2 separate regions of the Homo sapiens genome follow, and region 2 is linked to region 1. The links come from fine-mapping of genetic effects on gene expression. A gene starts in region 1. The other region holds a variant in brackets. All regions are shown on one strand. Distances are from middle to middle.

Evidence for each region.
Region 2: its variant is fine-mapped to the expression of CCDC47 in atrial appendage (GTEx, PIP 0.99).

The regions. Positions count from the first base shown.
Region 1 is chr17:63,769,210-63,778,033 of GRCh38, reverse strand. It overlaps CCDC47 (coiled-coil domain containing 47), which reads left to right and starts at 4,437. Exons shown (of 13, transcript NM_020198.3): 1 at 4,437-4,622. It overlaps DDX42 (DEAD-box helicase 42), which reads right to left and starts at 3,864. Exons shown (of 18, transcript NM_203499.3): 1 at 3,658-3,864. RefSeq lists a silencer at 3,536-3,825 and enhancers at 3,956-4,265, 3,978-4,562.
Region 2 is chr17:63,611,925-63,620,748 of GRCh38, reverse strand. No RefSeq gene overlaps it. Among named protein-coding and RNA genes, the nearest start is that of MAP3K3, 6.1 kb to the left of the region's middle. The variant G/C (reference allele first, on the strand shown) is at 3,904.

The sequences.
Region 1 (8,824 bases):
CTCAATTCCATAGCTCTCCACAGTTAATCATGCTGGAATGAGACCCTCCATTGTGGCATCAAACTACTTTACCATTCATATTTCCCAGGGTCTCTCCACACGTACTCAGTTTTCCAGGAAAACAAGCACTCTAGTGAATCCTCTTCCCTCTAACTGGATCCCCTTCACATCAAATCTCTTTCCTATAAACTGTGAGTACCTACCAAAGTCCTATCCTTCAAAGCATATCTCAAATACCAACTCCTAAAGACATGAATATGATATCCCCAAAGAAATGGCATCTCCTGGCTGGGCACGGTGGCTCACGCCTGTAATCTCAGCACTTTGGGAGGCCGAGACGGGTGGATCACGAAGTCAGGAGATCGAGACAATCCTGGCTAACATGCTGAAACCCCATCTCTATTAAAGATACAAAAAAATTAGCCAGGCGTGGTGGTGGGCACCTGTAGTCCCAGCTACTCCGGAGGCTGAGGCAGGAGAATCACTTGAACCCGGGAGACGGAGCTTGCAGTGAGCCAAGATCGCGCCACTGCACTCCAGCCTGGGCGACAGAGTGAGACTCCGTCTCAAAAAAAAAAAAAAAGAAAGAAAAAGAAATGGCATCTCCTTCCTCAAACTCCCTTTCCAGTCCAACTCCGTATTATAGGATTCATGGCTGAAGAAACAGGCTTATTCACTTTTCTCTTATAGCATGTTTTCAATATTAGATACTCATTTATTCAATATGTAAAAGACTAAAGGAGATCTACAACTAGGCTGAAGAGAAACAGTCAAGATGGCATCAAGTCCTATTTGGTATGGTTCTAGGCACTAAATCCTATGGCTGGCTGGGCAAGGTGGCTCACACCTGTAATCCTCGCCCTTTGGGAGGCCAAGGTGGGAGGATCACTTAAGGCCACGAGTTTGAGACCAGCCTGGGCAACACAATAAAACCCTGTCTTTACAAAAAAATTTAAAAAATTAGCCAGGCATGGTGGCACACGCCTGTAGTCCTAGCTGCTCAGGAGGCTGAGGCAAGAGGATTGCTTGAACCCAGGAGTTCCAGGTTACAATGAGCTGACTGGACCACTGCACTCCAACCTGGGCAACACAGCAAGACAGTCTCTAAAAAATAAATAAAACACGGTGGTTTCCTAGGAAATCTTAACAGAATAGTAAAGTAGCACAGGCTATGTGTAAACTATCTTTGCTACTAACTTGATATGAACCTCAGGGAAGTTATTTAGCTTCTCTGGGTTCAGTTTCCTCATCTATAAAAAATGGTAAGAGGCTGTGTGTGGTGGCTCACGCCTGTAATCCCAGCACTCTGGGAGGCTGAGGCAGGCGGATTACTTGAGCTCAGGAGTTCAAGACCAGCCTGGGCAACACAGCCAGACACCATCTCAAAAAAAAAAAAAAAAGATGAGACTATCACCTATCTCAAGAGTTGGCGTGAAAAATTAAGTTCATACACAAAAATGTACTTGTTCAATATGTCAGCTACCATCGTGTTTTTCATTATTACATTATTTCTGAAGAACCAATTTCTTCATCGGTAAATTGAGACTATCAGACTTCTTTCAACTCAGGTATTTCATACATAAGCGCCACAAGAACACTGAAGATGTCAGAGATCACCATGAGCTAACAAGCAAGGGCAAGTGTCATAACAGAGTCAGAAGCCAGGCTAGGCACAGAAAGATGAAAGCTGGGTAGAGACGTGCAGACGAAGACATTCCAGGGAGAAAGACTGAACTAGCAAAGGCTAGGAAGTGAGAATAAATGTGGAACACACTTATAAAGGAAGACAATTTAGCTAGTTTGTGTTTTCGGCAATGGCGGAAAATAAGATATGATCTAAATGACTTTAAATATAGTGGACTAAAAACAACTGATTATATAAGCCACATTACTTTATCACTTGTATTTTTGGAGGTGGAAGGAAGAGTTCTAGTGACAGTGATTAGCATCTACTCTACATATACTTTGAGAGTACCTCACACACTATATACAGGTCAGTTCTTTGATGAGAATCTAAATAAAAACTCAAGAACGTAATCACATTCTTCTAAACCAAATACAAGTAAATGCTAGGTTATGGTTATTTTAGAAGCATCCCTTCTCCTGTCAGCTTAAAGCAACTAAGAGCTGATTATATGACTATCAATGTAACAAAACAAATTTAAATAACTGCACTCCTCTCTTATATTAAATTGTTACAATATAAATCAGATATTATCATTCCTCTGATCGAAACCCTCAGATCCTTCCTAAGTAACAGCCTAAAAGGCTTTGGTTGTTCCGCTCACTCCCTTCCCCCAATTCTTCCCTGACCTTATCTCCTAATACTCCCTCAGCTCACAGTGCTCCAAACGCGTTGGTCTTCACACTCTTAACGGGCCAGCTTTGTCCTCCTCAAGGCTTTTATGTTTGTTATTCTCTAGCTTGGAACGTTCCTTTCCCCAGATAAACGTAGGCTCTCACTCCACCTTCTAGTCCGCTTAAATATCAGCTTGTCTGTATGGACTTCCCTGACCACTTTATTGCAAATTCCAACACCACCACCTCCCCAACCCCCTTTCCAGCTTTCTTTTCCCTAAGATACTGATCATCTTCTAACATTCAGTATAATATATGTATCTGTTTGCCTCTCCTCCCGCTACTAGAAAGTTAAGTTCCCCAAAGGCAGGGGTCTAACACCTATCCCTATCACCTAGAACGGCGCTAGAGAATAGGCACCAATAAAAATACCCCTTGAATGAACGAATTGCACATTAGGCTACACAATGCTTCTTCCAGGTACAGGAAGATATATTTTCTTTTCCCAGCTGTCAAAATATAAACATTAATTTTTGTACGAAACACTCATTGCTCACCTCTTATGTGCCAGAAATGAGCTTGGCTCTGCAAAGCGCCTTAAGACATAGTCCCTGCGCTTGAGGAAGTCCTGGGTGTGTATACGAGAGAGGACAGACATAGAAACATCATTGACAAAAAGAAAACACAGGGAAGCCACAAGAAATTGGATAACTGCCTATAGGAGTGGGGGCAAGAGGGAAATTCTCAGTGATGAGAATGTAATTCCCCAAAACTCTCGACAGCTTCTCCTGTTTTTGATGCATATGTTTGCAATTCCATGTAAATTATTTATTCACATCAGATACGCTCTCAAGTAGGCCGCAAAAAAGTTTGTGTGACTACAGTGATGCTAATAATCGACCTACTCAACGCTGCACAAAGATCATCGCCTATATCTTTTCACTCCTCTCATTTGGCAGCTTTTGCCTCTCAGGACCCCAAATTCGGAGGCCTGCATCTCCCAAGCGCTGCCTCCTTGGGTCAGAATTCTCCCCGCGCTATTCCTGCCCTGGAGCCGGGCACCCTGCAAATCCTTTTCCTAGGCGAGGGGGCGCCGCCTCCGGAAAGCCGCCAACTGGGCCTCGGTAAGACTTGTGAGGGAAGCGGGAGCTGTGGGAGGGCGACGCGGCTAGGAAGGAACCCTAGAGGCCTCAGCCCCCACTCCCACCCCTTCCCGGCACCCCGGCCGCCGGTGCCCCGAGGCTCTGCCGACTCTTTGTTAAGCGAGGCCGCGGTTCCTCCGCCCTCGCTAGGCCCAGCAGTTGCCTCCAGTGCCCCCAAGGACTGGCGGCCTTGCGTCCAGAAACCCCACGCACAAACCTGCTGCTATGGCTGCAGCGGCAGCTGCTACAACCGCGGGCGCGGAGCGAATCCCGGAGCCCAAAGTACGCGCTGTCCCGGCCCGGTCCCGCCGCGCTCCTTCCTCTCCGCCCCCTTCGCCGCCGCCGCCGCCACCACCACCACCGCCGCCGCCACCGCCACCACCGCCACCGCCTCACGGCCCGTTGCTGAAGGGGGGAGGGGAACAAAAACGCGACATGCGCAGTGAGGAACGCGCGGGCAGAAGGGCGGGGCCGGGGCTACGGCTCCCGGAAGGCGCCTGACCTTAAAGCTCCAGAACGCCTCACAGGCTCCTCAGATACTCTGACGGGAAACTGCAGTTGGGTGGACAGTGTTCATGACCCATCTAGAAAGTGGGTCTGCGAATGAAGAAAAAGTGGCGTCAAGGGGCTAGCCAAAAATCCCAAGAGAAAACGGGTTGGACAGAAACCATATTTACATGAACATGCCTATAGTTTAAACTGTTGCATATACTACTAGAGCGACACTCTTGCCTCTGGCCACGTGGTCCCACACAGCATGGCCACCTTTAGCTTCCGGAGCACCGGTTCCGTGTGACGTCAACTTGACGGAATCCTAGGTAGGAGGATTGGGATAGGCGAGGGCAGTTCCGGCCCAGGGGCGGGGATTATGTAATTTTCCCAAAAGCCCCACCTCGCCTCAGCCGGGCGGGAGAGAGGGAGGTCTCGCGCTTTCCCCGGGGTTGCGTCCCGCCCCGCAGGCTGCGCGCAGGCGCTGACGAGCCGCTCGCATTCTACGTAACGGACGGCGGAGGCTACGTGAAGAGAGGCGCGGCGTGACTGAGCTACGGTTCTGGCTGCGTCCTAGAGGCATCCGGGGCAGTAAAACCGCTGCGATCGCGGAGGCGGCGGCCAGGCCGAGAGGCAGGCCGGGCAGGGGTGTCGGACGCAGGGCGCTGGGCCGGGTTTCGGCTTCGGCCACAGGTAAGGAGCGGGCCAGGACGCGCTCGTCGGCGTGGCCGGGCCAGGCCGAGCGGTGACTCCGAGTTGCTTGGCCTGTAGCCCGGTCCGGTTGAGATAATTGTAATGGTTTGGGGGAACTTTCCCACGGAGCTGTGAGCAAATGATAGCCAAAAGGGCAGAGTTAGAGGAAATGTACAGTGTGTGCCGGAGGATGACATTAGGATGTATTGATTCTCTTGGGTGGGGAGAAACTAGGCAAAGGGGTTTAATAGAAGCAAAAACCTCTGTGGCCAGTCTCTTCTGGAGGTTTCTAAAATGAAACGTGTTTGTATCCAACACATATAAAGAGACAGAGGAAAGTCTGCATGATTTCCAGAATACTCGTTTTGGCCGTTGTCAGGAAGACCTAATCTAAAATGACAACAAGGAATGATGGCCTCACTCAGTCCTCTTTCCTCAAGTCTAGACTCAGTCGCTGAGGAACTATTGGATGAGCTTGCAGAAAATAATCAAACCAGACTTGTTAGCGCTTGTGTGAATTTTCCTTGGTCCTGTGTTGCTTGCTTCAGGAGTCATAGAGGCTGGGTGGTCTGGCAAGGACTTGTGCATTTGAGAACTGACAGGTGCAGCGGAGACTTCTAAGAGGGAAAACCAAGGTAAAAATGGCTTGGATGATTGTAACCTAAATAACCTTGAAGGATCTCCATTATAGTGCTGAGTTATCTCAGAAGTGTTTCTATGGTGTGAATATTCTAATTGGAAATTCAATTTGAAATGATCGGATCTTTTGGCAGGCTGTTAATCGAGTTGACTGTTCCGGTGTTAACTTTTAGTTGCTTCTATATGAAAAAAAAGTTTTAAGAGTAGGATTTGAAAAGGAGGCTGGGCGCGGTGGCCCACGTCTGTAATCCCAGCACTTTGGGAGGCCGAGACGGGTGGATCACGAGGTCAGGAGATCGAGACCATCCTGGCTAACACAGTGAAACCCCGTCTCTACTAAAAATACAAAAAATTAGCCCTGCGTGGTGGCGAGCGCCTGTAGTCCCAGCTACTTGGGAGGCTGAGGCAGAAGAATGGCGTGAACCCGGGAGGCGGAGCTTGCAGTGAGCCGAGATCGTGCCACTGCACTCCAGCCTGGGTGACAGAGTCAGACTCCGTCTCAAAAAAAAAAAAAAAAAAAAACCCTTGGTACATATCTCCCGTAATACCCACTGCAGCCCTAAGAGGCAAGTAGCAAATGGTATCCCTTTTTTGTATGTGGAGAACAGGGAATTTTAAGTAATTAGGCTAAGGTCATATTGCTGGTAAATGGTAGAGCTGACATTTTATTTTATTATTTATCTATTTTTTTGAGACAGAGTCTCACCCTGTTGCCCAGGCTGGAGTGCAGTGGCGCAATCTTGGCTCACTACAACCTCCATCTCTCGGGTTCAAGCGATTCTCCTGCCTCAGCGTCCCGAGTAGCTGGGATTACAGGTGCCTGCCACCACGCCCGGCTAATTTTTGTATTTTTAGTAGAGGTGGGGTTTCACTATTTTGGCCAAGCTGGTCTCGAACTCCTGACCTCAAATGATCCACCCACCTCGGCCTCCCAAAGTGCTGAGATTACAGACGTGGACCACCACGCCTGGCCTAGAGCTGACATTTTAAACCAAGTCTAATTTCACCAAAGTATGTGCTGTTTTCTATATTTCTTCCACTTTTGACCAAATATCACAACATGAGAACTAGAGGGAAAGCCTAGAAAAACTAGAAGAGAAACTTTAACAGGTAGTAATTTAGAGGACTGAAGACCCTTAGGCCTAGTGGAAGTGGAAAATATACATTCCAGAGTTTAAAAACACTCATTAGTAACTAAAGATGGTTAAAGGAAGCTAGGGATGTTTAGAGACACATCCCATACCTCTTTGAGGCTGGCATTGACAAAGTGGCATGCTTTCCCATAGATTGTCCCTTGATACTAACCTGAAGGATCAACTAGTATAAAAAGAATGTTTAGTTCTCCCTTGATATGTATGGGGGATTGGTTCCAGGACCCCTTGAGAATACCAAAATCCATGGATACTCAAGTCCCTTATATAAAATGGTGTAGTATTTACGTATAACCTATGCACCTCCTACCATATACTTATATATGTATATGTATATACACTATATAATTATCTCTAGATTACTTATAATACCTAATTTAATTGTATTTTTTTTTAACTGTTCTTGCCTCCAAATCTGTTCCATCTGTGGTTGGTTGAATCCACAGATGTGGAACCCATGGGTAGGGCCTACTGTACCGTTGGCCTATCCTTTATGGCATTTCTCAAAATCATTTGTACCTTTCAAATTTTATGAACTTTAATTCTAAGAACATTTAATTTCTTTCTTTCTTTCTTCCTTCCTTCCTTCCTTCCTTCCTTCCTTCCTTTCTTTCTTTCTTTCTTTTTTTTTTTTTTGACACAGTCTCGCTCTGTCACCCAGGCTGGAGTGCAGTGGCATGATCTTGGCTCACTGCAATCTCCGCCTCCCAAGTTTAAGCAATTTTCCTGCCTCAGCCTCCCAAGTAGCTGGGATTACAGGTGTGTGCCACCATGCCTGGCTAATTTTTTGGTATTTTTAGTCGAGACGGGATTTCACCATGTTGACCAGGCTGTTCTCGAACTCCTGACCTCCGCTGATCTGCCCGTATTGGCCTCCCAAAGTGCTGGGATTACAGGTGTGAGCCACTGCGCCCAGCCTTTAAGAGCATTTAATTTCTTGAGCATCCATGGATTGCAAGGCATTCGACAATAACCTTCGATATTAAACTGATTTCTTTAAGAAGTTTCAGTGCTATAAATGAGATTTAGAATATTCTCCATCTCAGAGCACCTTGAAAGAGTAGTACATATTTCCCTTTGCCATACTCTCACTTCCGTTAATACTCAATTGCTTGCATTATGGCTTCCATCCTTATCACTTCCCTGCAGTTGCCAGTAATGATTTCATCATGACCTGGCCCCTGAGGGCCTTTCCAGCCTCCTTTCTCCCACTTGAGTCTACAAACCCAATGTCCTATCATACCAGGCTCCTAAAATATGCTATTTCAGGCCTCCATGCCAAACCTGTTCCGCAGTCTGCAATGCCTCTTCTCTAGTGACAAAAGTACACTACAGAAAAAAAAAAATTAGTCCGGGCACGGTGGCTCATGCCTGTAAATGCCTGTAATCCCAGCACTTTGGGAGGCCGAGGCAGGTGGATCACCTGAGGTCAGGAGTTCGAGACCAACCTGGCCAACATGGTGAAACCCCATCTGTACTTAAACTACAAAAAAAATTAGCCAGGCATGATGGTGAGTGCCTATAACCCAGCTACTCAGGAGGCTGAGACAGAAGAATCGCTTGAACCCAGGAGGCAGAGGTTGCAGTGACCCGAGATCACGCCACTACACTCCAACCTGGGCTACAGAGTGAGACTCTGCCTCAAAAAAAAAAAAAAAAAGAAAGAAAAATAAAGACAAAATATCCAGAATTCTACCATACAAGCTAACTAATATTTGTATGTAAATGTATGTTTTTCTAAACCAAGCTTGTCCAACCCATGGCCTGCAGGCCGCATGTGACCCAGGACAGCTTTGAATGTGGCCTAACACAAATTCGTAAACTTTCTTAAAACATTATGAGATATTTTTTAGCTTATTGGCTATCATTAGTGTTAGTGTATTTTATGTGTGGCCCAAGACAATTATTCTTCTTCCGTTGTGCCTCAGGGAAACCAAAAAATTTGACATCCCTGTTAAACTTTTTTGTTTTCTTTTTCTTTTCTTTTCTTTTCTTTTTTTTTTTTTTTGAGATGGAGTTTCACTCTTGTTGCCCAGGCTGGACTGCAATGGCGCTGTCTCGGCTCACTGCAACCTCCACCTCCTGATTCAAGCGATCCTCCTGCCTCAGCCTCCCAAGTAGCTGGGATTACAGGCGCCTGTCACCATGCCCGGCTAATTTTTGTATTTTTAGCAGAGACGAGGTTTCACCATGTTGGTCAGGCTGGCCTCAAACTCCTGACCTCAGGTGATCTGCCCACCTCAGCCTCCCAAAGTGCTGGGATTACAGGTGTGAGCCATCGCACACAGCCAAACCTTTTTCTTTATGTGCATTTGCTTCTAAAATGATCTGGGTTTCGACTTCATTTGTAACATTTTGTTTTTTTTTTTTCTTTTAGACAGCCTTGCTCTGTTGCCCAGGCTGTAGTGCAGT
Region 2 (8,824 bases), 160 kb after region 1:
ACAGGCGTGAGCCACTGCAAGCAGCCTCCCTTATTTCTTTACACTCATCTCCGTATATTTAATCAGCCCCCTTGTCCTGTTTTCTTTTTCTTCCAACAAGCTTAAGCCTGCCATATTCCCACTTGATTTGGTCTCTACCCAGTTTACTGGAGTTCCTTAACTATAATAATCTCTATTCTTGAAAGCGGGGATAAAGGGGAAAGAAAATTAGTATTTATCAATATAACAGGCACGTCATTGCATTTAATTTTTCCAATAACTCTAAGGTTATTATGCTAATACTGTGGGCATTTAAATGATGAAAGTGAAGCTTAGAGAGGTTAAGCACTGTGTCCAAGTAGTGGAGCCAGGATTCATACCAAGCCTGTGTGACTCCCAAAGGCCATGTTCTTGCACTAGGCCAGTGTTTCTCAACCTTTTTTTCATTATCCACCCCTGCCAGGAAAAAATTTTAATTTAAATTACTTAATTAAATTTAAATTCTCCCTAAGAAGAGAAATTAAATACTAAGGAATAAGATTTTGTCAGGTAGAGTAGAGCCTTTGTAAAAAAAATTTTCTGTAGAGTTGGGGGTGTCCCACCATTTTGCCCAAACTGGTCTCAAACTCCTGGGCTCAAGCAATCCTCCCACCTCAACTTCCCAAATTGCTGGAATTACAGGTGTGAGCTGCCATGCTCCTTTCTGTTTTCCCAATTGCTAAAGCACAGATGCTGCTCGACTTACCATGGGGCCATGTCCAGATAAACCATCAGATGAACAATCGTTAAGTAGAAAATGCATTTAATACACCTGACCTACTGAACATCATAGCTTAGCCAAGCCTATCTTAAGCGTGCTCGAACACTTAAGTTAGCCTACAGTTGGACAAAATTATCTAACACAAAGCCTATTTTATAAGAAAGTTTTGAATAGCTCATGTAATTTACCAAATACTGTACTGAAAATGAAAAACAGAATGGTTGTACTCAAAGCACAGTTTCTACTGAATTGTGTGTTGCTTTTGAACCATCATAACGCCAAAAATCATAAGCTGAGGCCGGGGCACAGTGGCTCACACCTGTAATCCCAGCACTTTGGGAGGCTGAGGCGGGTGGATCACTTGAGGTCAGGAGTTCGAGACCAGCCTGACCAACATGGTAAAACCCTATCTCTACTAAAAATAAAAAATTAGCTGGGCGTGGTAGCGCACACCTGTAATCCCAGCTACTTGGGAGGCTGAGGCAGGACAATTGCTTGAATCCGGGAGACAGAGGTTGCAGTGAGCCAAGATCATGCCATTGCACTCCAGCCTGGGCAACAAAAGCAAAACTCCATCTCAAAAAAAAAAAAAAAAAAAAAAGGTATAAGCCGAACCATAGTAAGTCAGAGACCCTCTGTACAAACCTAGGAGTGTTCCTTGATTATTCTCTCTCCCTGACACCCATATATCCAAACATGCAGCAAATCTTTTCAGCTCCCACTTCAAAATGTATCTGAATCAGGTCGGACGCAGTGGCTCACACCTGTAATCCCAGCGCTTTGGGAGGCCAGGGCAGGTGGATCACCTGAGGTCAGGAGTTCGAAACCAGCTTGGCCAATATGGTGAAACCCCATCTCTATTAAAAATATAAAAATTAGCCAGGTGTGGTGGCCTGTAATCCTAGCTACTTGGAGGCTGAGGCAGGAGAATCGCTTGAACCTAGAAGGCGGAGGTTGCAGTGAGCCGAGATTGTGCCACTGCACTCCAGCCTGAGCAATAGAGTGAAACCCTGTCTCCAAAAAAAATACAATAAAAATACACACACACACACACACACACACACACACACACACACACCTGAATCCAACCACTTCTCATCCCACCCCCCTTATCCAAGCCACCACCTACTCTCCTGAATGACTGCCCCAGACTCCTATCTGGCCTCCATTGTTTCCTCTGTGGCAGCCCAACAAATGATTCCCCAATAGCAACCAGAGTGATCCCTGTAAAATGTAATTCAGATCACGCCACCCTACCCCCTGCCCACTGTCAGCCCTCCAATGGCTTCCCTCCCATCACACTCAGAATAAAACCCCAATTCTTTGTCATGACCTGCCAAGCCCAATAGGAGCTGGCCCCTCCATCCTGTCCCTCCATCACTGTCCTCTAGCTACTCTGGCCTTCTTTCCATTCTTTGAAACTACCAAGCCAAGATGTTCTCATTTCTGCAGTTTATTCAAGTCTCTGCTCAAACGTCTGCTTTTAAGTCATTTCTTATCACCCCATCCAAAATGACCCCTCCCTTCCATCATTCTGTATTTGTATATTTTTTCCTTGTTTTTTTTTCTCAGTGGCTAAAATTATATATTTATTTGTTTGCTCTACTCCAACTACCACAAACATAAGGTATGCAGGAGCAGGAATTTTGTCCTGCTTACTGCTCTATCACCAGCACTTAGAATAGTGCCTCACACATGGAGAACCGCAGTACATCTACCTGAGTCTTTAGCTGAAAACAACCTTCTGATTTACCTTCTACCTTTCTTACAACTGCCTTCTTTGTGGCTTCATTTGCACTGTCGGTGTCTCAACCAGCCATCTCAAACATTCCCATACTGCAGTTACCATATGCGCTGAGGATTCCAGAATCTCAACTGTGTCTCTAGCTCAGGGATGTCTTTCTTCTGAACTCCACAGACATGGGTGTCCCACAGGAACCTCCAATTTTGGGTCCAAACTGAAACCATTTTCCCCCATAGTTCTGTATTTTCTCTGTCCCTCTCCAGTTTCCCAAGTTGGATACCTTCGAATGATCAGATAGCTCTTTCTCTCCATTTCTTTCCCCCACAGCCAGTCTTGAACAAGTCTCCAATCTGTCCATCCCTCTCCCATCCCATTTTACCACCCTAGCTCAAACCACCAAAATCTCTTACCTGCATGACTTAAGCGTAACAGCCTCTCAACATATATTCACATCACAGATTGATCTTTCTGAAATGGACACCTGATTCTGCCATACCCTCCCTAAAAAGTTTCCCATCACCCTTAGGATAAGTCATATATGTGAATGTAGTTAAGAAGGTCCTTCAGGACCCAACCCATACCTTCTTCTTCAGCCACACGTCCTTCTATTTCCACCTTAACTATAATAGTTAACCCCATTATTCAAATTCTATGCCCCAGCCACATAGAACCACCAGCAATTCCTCAAATGTGAATTTCTCTTGCTTCTATACCTCTGCGTGTGCTATGTTCTCTGCATGAAATCCTCTTCGCTTCTGCTTCCACCTCCATTCTTTTTTTTTTTTTTTTTTTTTTTTTTTGAGACGGAGTCTTGCTCTCTCGCCCAGGCTGGAGTGCAGTGACGCAAGCTCCGCCTGCCGGGTTCATGCCATTCTCCTGCCTCAGCCTCCCGAGTAGCTGGGACTACAGGTGCCCGCCACCACGCCTGGCTAATTTTTTGTATTTTTTTTTTAGTAGAGACGGGGTTTCACCGCGTTAGCCAGGATGGTCTCGATCTCCTGACCTCGTGATCTGCCGCCTCGGCCTCCCAAAGTGCTGGGATTACAGGCATGAGCCACCACGCCCAGCCCCCACCTCCATTCTTTCAGGGAAGAGCTAAGCCTATACAGCATTCTCCAGGAAGCCTTCTCAGACAGACAACTCCAAGTCCGGGTTAAGGCCCTCAGACATGCTGTCAGAGCACTGGGTACTTTCTTCATCAAAGCATGTGTCCTGCTAATAATTGTCTTTAACCAAGTATGTATAAAAAGGCCAGGTGTGGTGGCTCATATGTCTATAATCCTAACATTTTAGGAGGCTAATGAGGGAGGATTGCTTGACGCCAGGAGTTTGAGACCAGTCTGGGAAACATAGTTAGACCTCGTCTCTACAAAAAAAATTTAAAATTATCCAGGTATGGTGGCGTGTGCCTGTAGTCCTA[G/C]CTACTCAAGAAGCTGAGGTTGGAGAACTGCTTGAGCTCAGGAGGTAAGGCTACAGTGAGCTATGATCCTATCACTGCACTCCAGCCTAGATGACAGGGCCAGACCCTCAAACAAAACAAAACAAAGCAAAACAAAGCAAAACAAAACAACCAAATTAAGCATAAAGACAGAAGCTGCTTTCAAATCAGCATGCCTCTCATCTTTCATAGCACATTAAAAAACAAATATTTGTCAAATGAGTAAGTGAACCTCAAATGGAGATGTTAGTAACTGAATGTAATTTCCATAATGTTCCCTTTTAGGTATATGCAGTATTTTATCTTCTTTTTTTTTTTTTTTTTGAGACGGAGTCTCGCTCTGTCACCCAGGCTGGAGTGCAGTGGCGTGATCTCGGCTCACTGCAAGCTCTGCCTCCCGGGTTCACACCATTCTCCTGCCTCAGCCTCCCAAGTAGCTGGGACTACAGGCGCCTGCCACCATGCTTGGCTAACTTTTTGTATTTTTAGTAGAGACGGGATTTCACCGTGTTAGCAAGGATGGTCTCAATCTCCTGACCTCATGATCCGCTCACCTTGGCCGCCCAAAGTGCTGGGATTACAGGCATGAGCCACTGTACCCAGCCGAAAATTCTTTTTTGAGACAAGGTCTTGCTGTCCTCCAGACTGGAGTACAGTGGCACAGTCATAGCTTACCACAAGCTCAACCTCCCAGGTTCAAGGGATCCTCCTGTCTCAGTCTCCTCAGTAGCTGATACTACAGGCTCATGGCACCACACCTGACTTTTTATTTTCATTTTATTTTTGAAGACAGAGTCTTACTCCATCACCCAGGCTGGAGTGAAGTGGTGTAATCATAGCTCACTGAAGCCTTGACCTCCTGGGCTCAATCTTTCCACCCCAGCCTCTCAAGTAGCTGGGACTACAGGTGCACACCACCATGCCCTGCTAACTTTTGTATGTTTTGTAGAGACAGGGTTTTGCCATGTTGCCCAGGCTGGTCTTGAACTCTTTCGGCTCAAGCTATCTGCCCGCCTCAGCCTCTTGAAGTGCTGGGATTACAAGTGTGAGCCACCATGCCCGGCCCTAGCATCTTTTTTAAAACAGACAATCCAAATGCCCATTGATAGGAGACTGGTTAAATTATGACACGTTAATACCAAAAAAGTTATGTAGCTATTAAAAAGAATGAAGAGACTTCTCCATACTAATACTAAAAGGTAACCAGGATGTATTGTGAAGTGAAAAAAAAAAGGTTAAAGCAAAGTATATAGCATGATCACTTTTCAGTTTTAAAAAATGCTCATTCAGGCCAGGTGTGGTGGCTTATGCCTGTAATCTCAACACTTTGGGAGGCTGAGGCAGAATTGCTTCAGGCCATGAGTTCAAAACTACGTATCAAGACCCTGATATGCCTGTCCAACATACTGAGACTCCATGTCTATTTAAAAAAAAAAAAAAAAGAAGCTGGCCAGGCAAGGTGGCTCACACCTATAATCCCAGCATTTTGGGAGGTCAAGCTGGGAGGATCACTTGAGCCCAGGAGTTCAAGACTGGCCTGGGCAACATGGCAAGATCCCATATCAATTAAAAAAAAATTTTTTTTTTTTTGAGACAGAGTCTTGCTCTGTGGCCCAGGCTGGAGTGCAGTGGTGCAATCTCACTGCAACCTCTGCCTCCTGGGTTCAAGCAATTCTCCTGCCTCAGCCTCCCGAGTAGCTGGGATTACAGGCAAGCACCACCCAGCCCAGCTAATTTTTGTATTTTAGTAGATGTTGTGTTTCACCATGTTTTCCCTAGGGTGGTCTTGAACTCCTGAGCTCAGGCAATCCACCTGCCTCGGCCTCCCAAAGTGCTAGGATTGCAGGCATTAGCCACCATGCCTGGCCAAAAAAATTTTTTAATGAAAAAAAAAATGCTCATTCACACTTAGAAAAAGGCCAACATTTATTGAACACTTAACTATTGCCAGGTGCTGTTTCAAGTGCTTAACATATATTAACTTAATTCTCAAAACAGCCGCATGTAATCGGTACTATCATTACCCCCATTTTACAGGTAAAGAAGCATGTACAAAGAGGTTAAGTTCTTGTCCAAGGTTGCTAGCTGTTGGCAGAGCTAGAATTTGGTCCCTAGCAGACTGGCTCCAAAGAGTGAAAAAATATAAATCGTTAATGGTGGTTGTATCTTAGGAGGTAGAATTAAATGGGAATTTTGTTGTTGTTGTTGTTGTTATTTATTTATGTAAGATTTGCCTTTTTAAAGACAATAAATGTTACCTTTTGGGCATACACAAAAAATAAAAAGAACAAAGAAGTAAAAATGCTATCCTGTTCACTGGCTGGACATAGAATAATTTCAGTTAAGAGTAGTGTGGCACCAGGCTGATGGCTCATACCTGTAATCCCAGCACTTCAGGAGGCCAAGATGGGAGGATCACTTGAGCCCAGGAGTTCAAGACCAGCCCTGTCAACATAGCAATACCCCATCTCTTCAAAACATAAAATAACCGGGCATGGTGGCATGCAAGGAGGCTGAAGCAGAAGGATTGCTTGAGCCTGAGAGGTTGAGGCTGCAGTGAGCGATGGTTGTGCCACTGCACTCCAGCTTGGCTGACAAAGACCCTGTTACACACACACACACACAAAAAAAAGAAAAGAAAAGAAAGAAAGAAAGGAAAGGAAAAGGAAAAGAAAAAGAGTATTGTGGATCTATCATCGCATTCCCTTTTGCCAGACTTATTTTCTGTGAAGAGAATGTCTCCAGAAGTGTCTTTGGGGATTCAAATAAGTCTGGGAATTGGGGGCTCTTCGAGTTTGAAAATTTATTGACTGCTATAAGTTTCAGAGAAAAAAAAGTAACTCAACCACATGGCTGAATTTCCACAGTTGGTTGGAGGCACAGCCTTTGCTGTTCCTCTTGGATTCAGCCAGGGCCTCTAGCAGAGGGGAGGTGGCTACGCACAAGAGTGCTTCTTATAACAGTCAAGACTGTGAACAGAGCCTATCACAGATACTTCTGTCCCACTAAAAGGACACTTGAAGGTAAGCCCAAGGTGGCTTCAAGACCTTGAATAATTTTATGTTGCTAAGACAATAACCAAAGATAAGGCAAAGCAAGCCAAGCCAGCACTGGACCTCATTCCTCTGACTTTAACATGCATCTGACTCCCAGACTCTCAGATGCTGTGAGACTAGCTTTTGGTTTTTTTTTAATTATGTCACCTGATAAAAGTAAAACATGGGGGCTGGGCACAGTGGCTCACACCTATAATCCCAGCACTTTGGGAGGCTGAGGCAAGAGGATCCCTAGGAGCCAGGAATTCAAAACCAGCCTTACACAGGAAGACCCCATCTCTCTCTCTCTCTTTTTTTTCTTTTTTCGGTGAGACGGAGTCTTGCTCTGTCGCCCAGGCTGGAGTGCAGTGGTGCGATCTTGGCTCACTGCAACTTCCGCCTCCTGGGTTCAAATGACTCTCCTGCCTCAGCTTCCCAAGTAGCTGGGATTACAGGCGCCCGCCACCACGCCCAGCCAATTTTTATATTTTTAGTAGAGACGGGGTTTCACCACATTGGCCAGGCTGGTCTCGAACTCCTGACCTTATGATCCACACACATCGGCCTCCCAAAGTGCTGGGATTACAGGCGTGAGCCACCGCGCCCGGCCGGGAAGACACCATCTCTTAAGAAAAGAAAAGAAAGAAAGAAAAAAGGAAAACATGATTACAGAATATAAAGCTCAGTAATAACATCACTACCCTGAGATAACCTGTTTTGATATTTTAGTACATTTCCTTCTAGTCTTTTTTAAAAAGTTCATATATATAATATGTTAAATAAATATATACATATCTATTTCAAAATTTGGACCACACTATACATGTAGTTTTGTATCTTTTTTCCCACTTAATGTTATATTCTAAACATTTTCTCTGACAAAAGATTCTTTAAAAAATAATTTTTAGTGGCAACATAATACCTTGGCATATGGATGTAACCATCTTTAATGTTTTTTTTTTGAGACGGAGTCTCGCTCTTGTGCCCCAGGCTGGAGTGCAATGGTGTGATCTCGGCTCACTGCAACCTCCACCTCCCGGGTTCAAGTGATTCTCCTGCCTCAGCCTCCTGAGTAGCTGGGACTACAGGCGCCTGCCACCATGCCTGGCTAATTTTTGTATTTTTAGTAGAGACGGGGTTTCACCATGTTGGCCAGGCTAGTCTCGAATTCCTGACCTCAGGTAATCCACCCGCCTCGGCTTCCCAAAGTGCTGGGATTACAAGCGGGAGCCACCGCACCCGGCCGTGACCATCTTTATTTGAATAGCTCAGGGTCTCTTTTCCAGATCTAGAGACAGCAGAACAAATTCAAGAAGGGTTCATTTCTGCCTTTCCTATTAACTGCAGGAGAGAGACTGCAGGGCACCACTAGGGGTCAGTGCAGAGCCATCATCACAGGAGCCTTTACTGTGCCTTACAGTAAGCATGTCTTGATGTAAGATAATTGGTTATGCAACAATCCATATTAATAAAGATTCTATATGCTACATTAGAGATCTATTCACATGACTAGCCATGTTCCCTTTAAGAGCAGACTCCCTTAGTACAGATTTCTCAGATTATAAATAAGATTCCTCCAAATTAATTTCCAAAACAGAGCTATTTTATAAACACCAAGGTCTATCAGTGTAAGACCTGTTCTTTCCTGCTTGGTATGAGATCATTTGTGCATAAAATACTTGGCCAAAGTGTTTTATAGGTTTGTTGGGAAAATCAAATAAATAACATGTAAACGTATCTTACAAATTATGAAGCCACATATAAACGTAAATTTGCTCTTTTTTAATGATAAGCAATTCAGATATTTGGGCAAGTGGCATGACCATGGATTATTTCACTGGTTTTCTTCCTCGTAGCCCTTGCTCTCC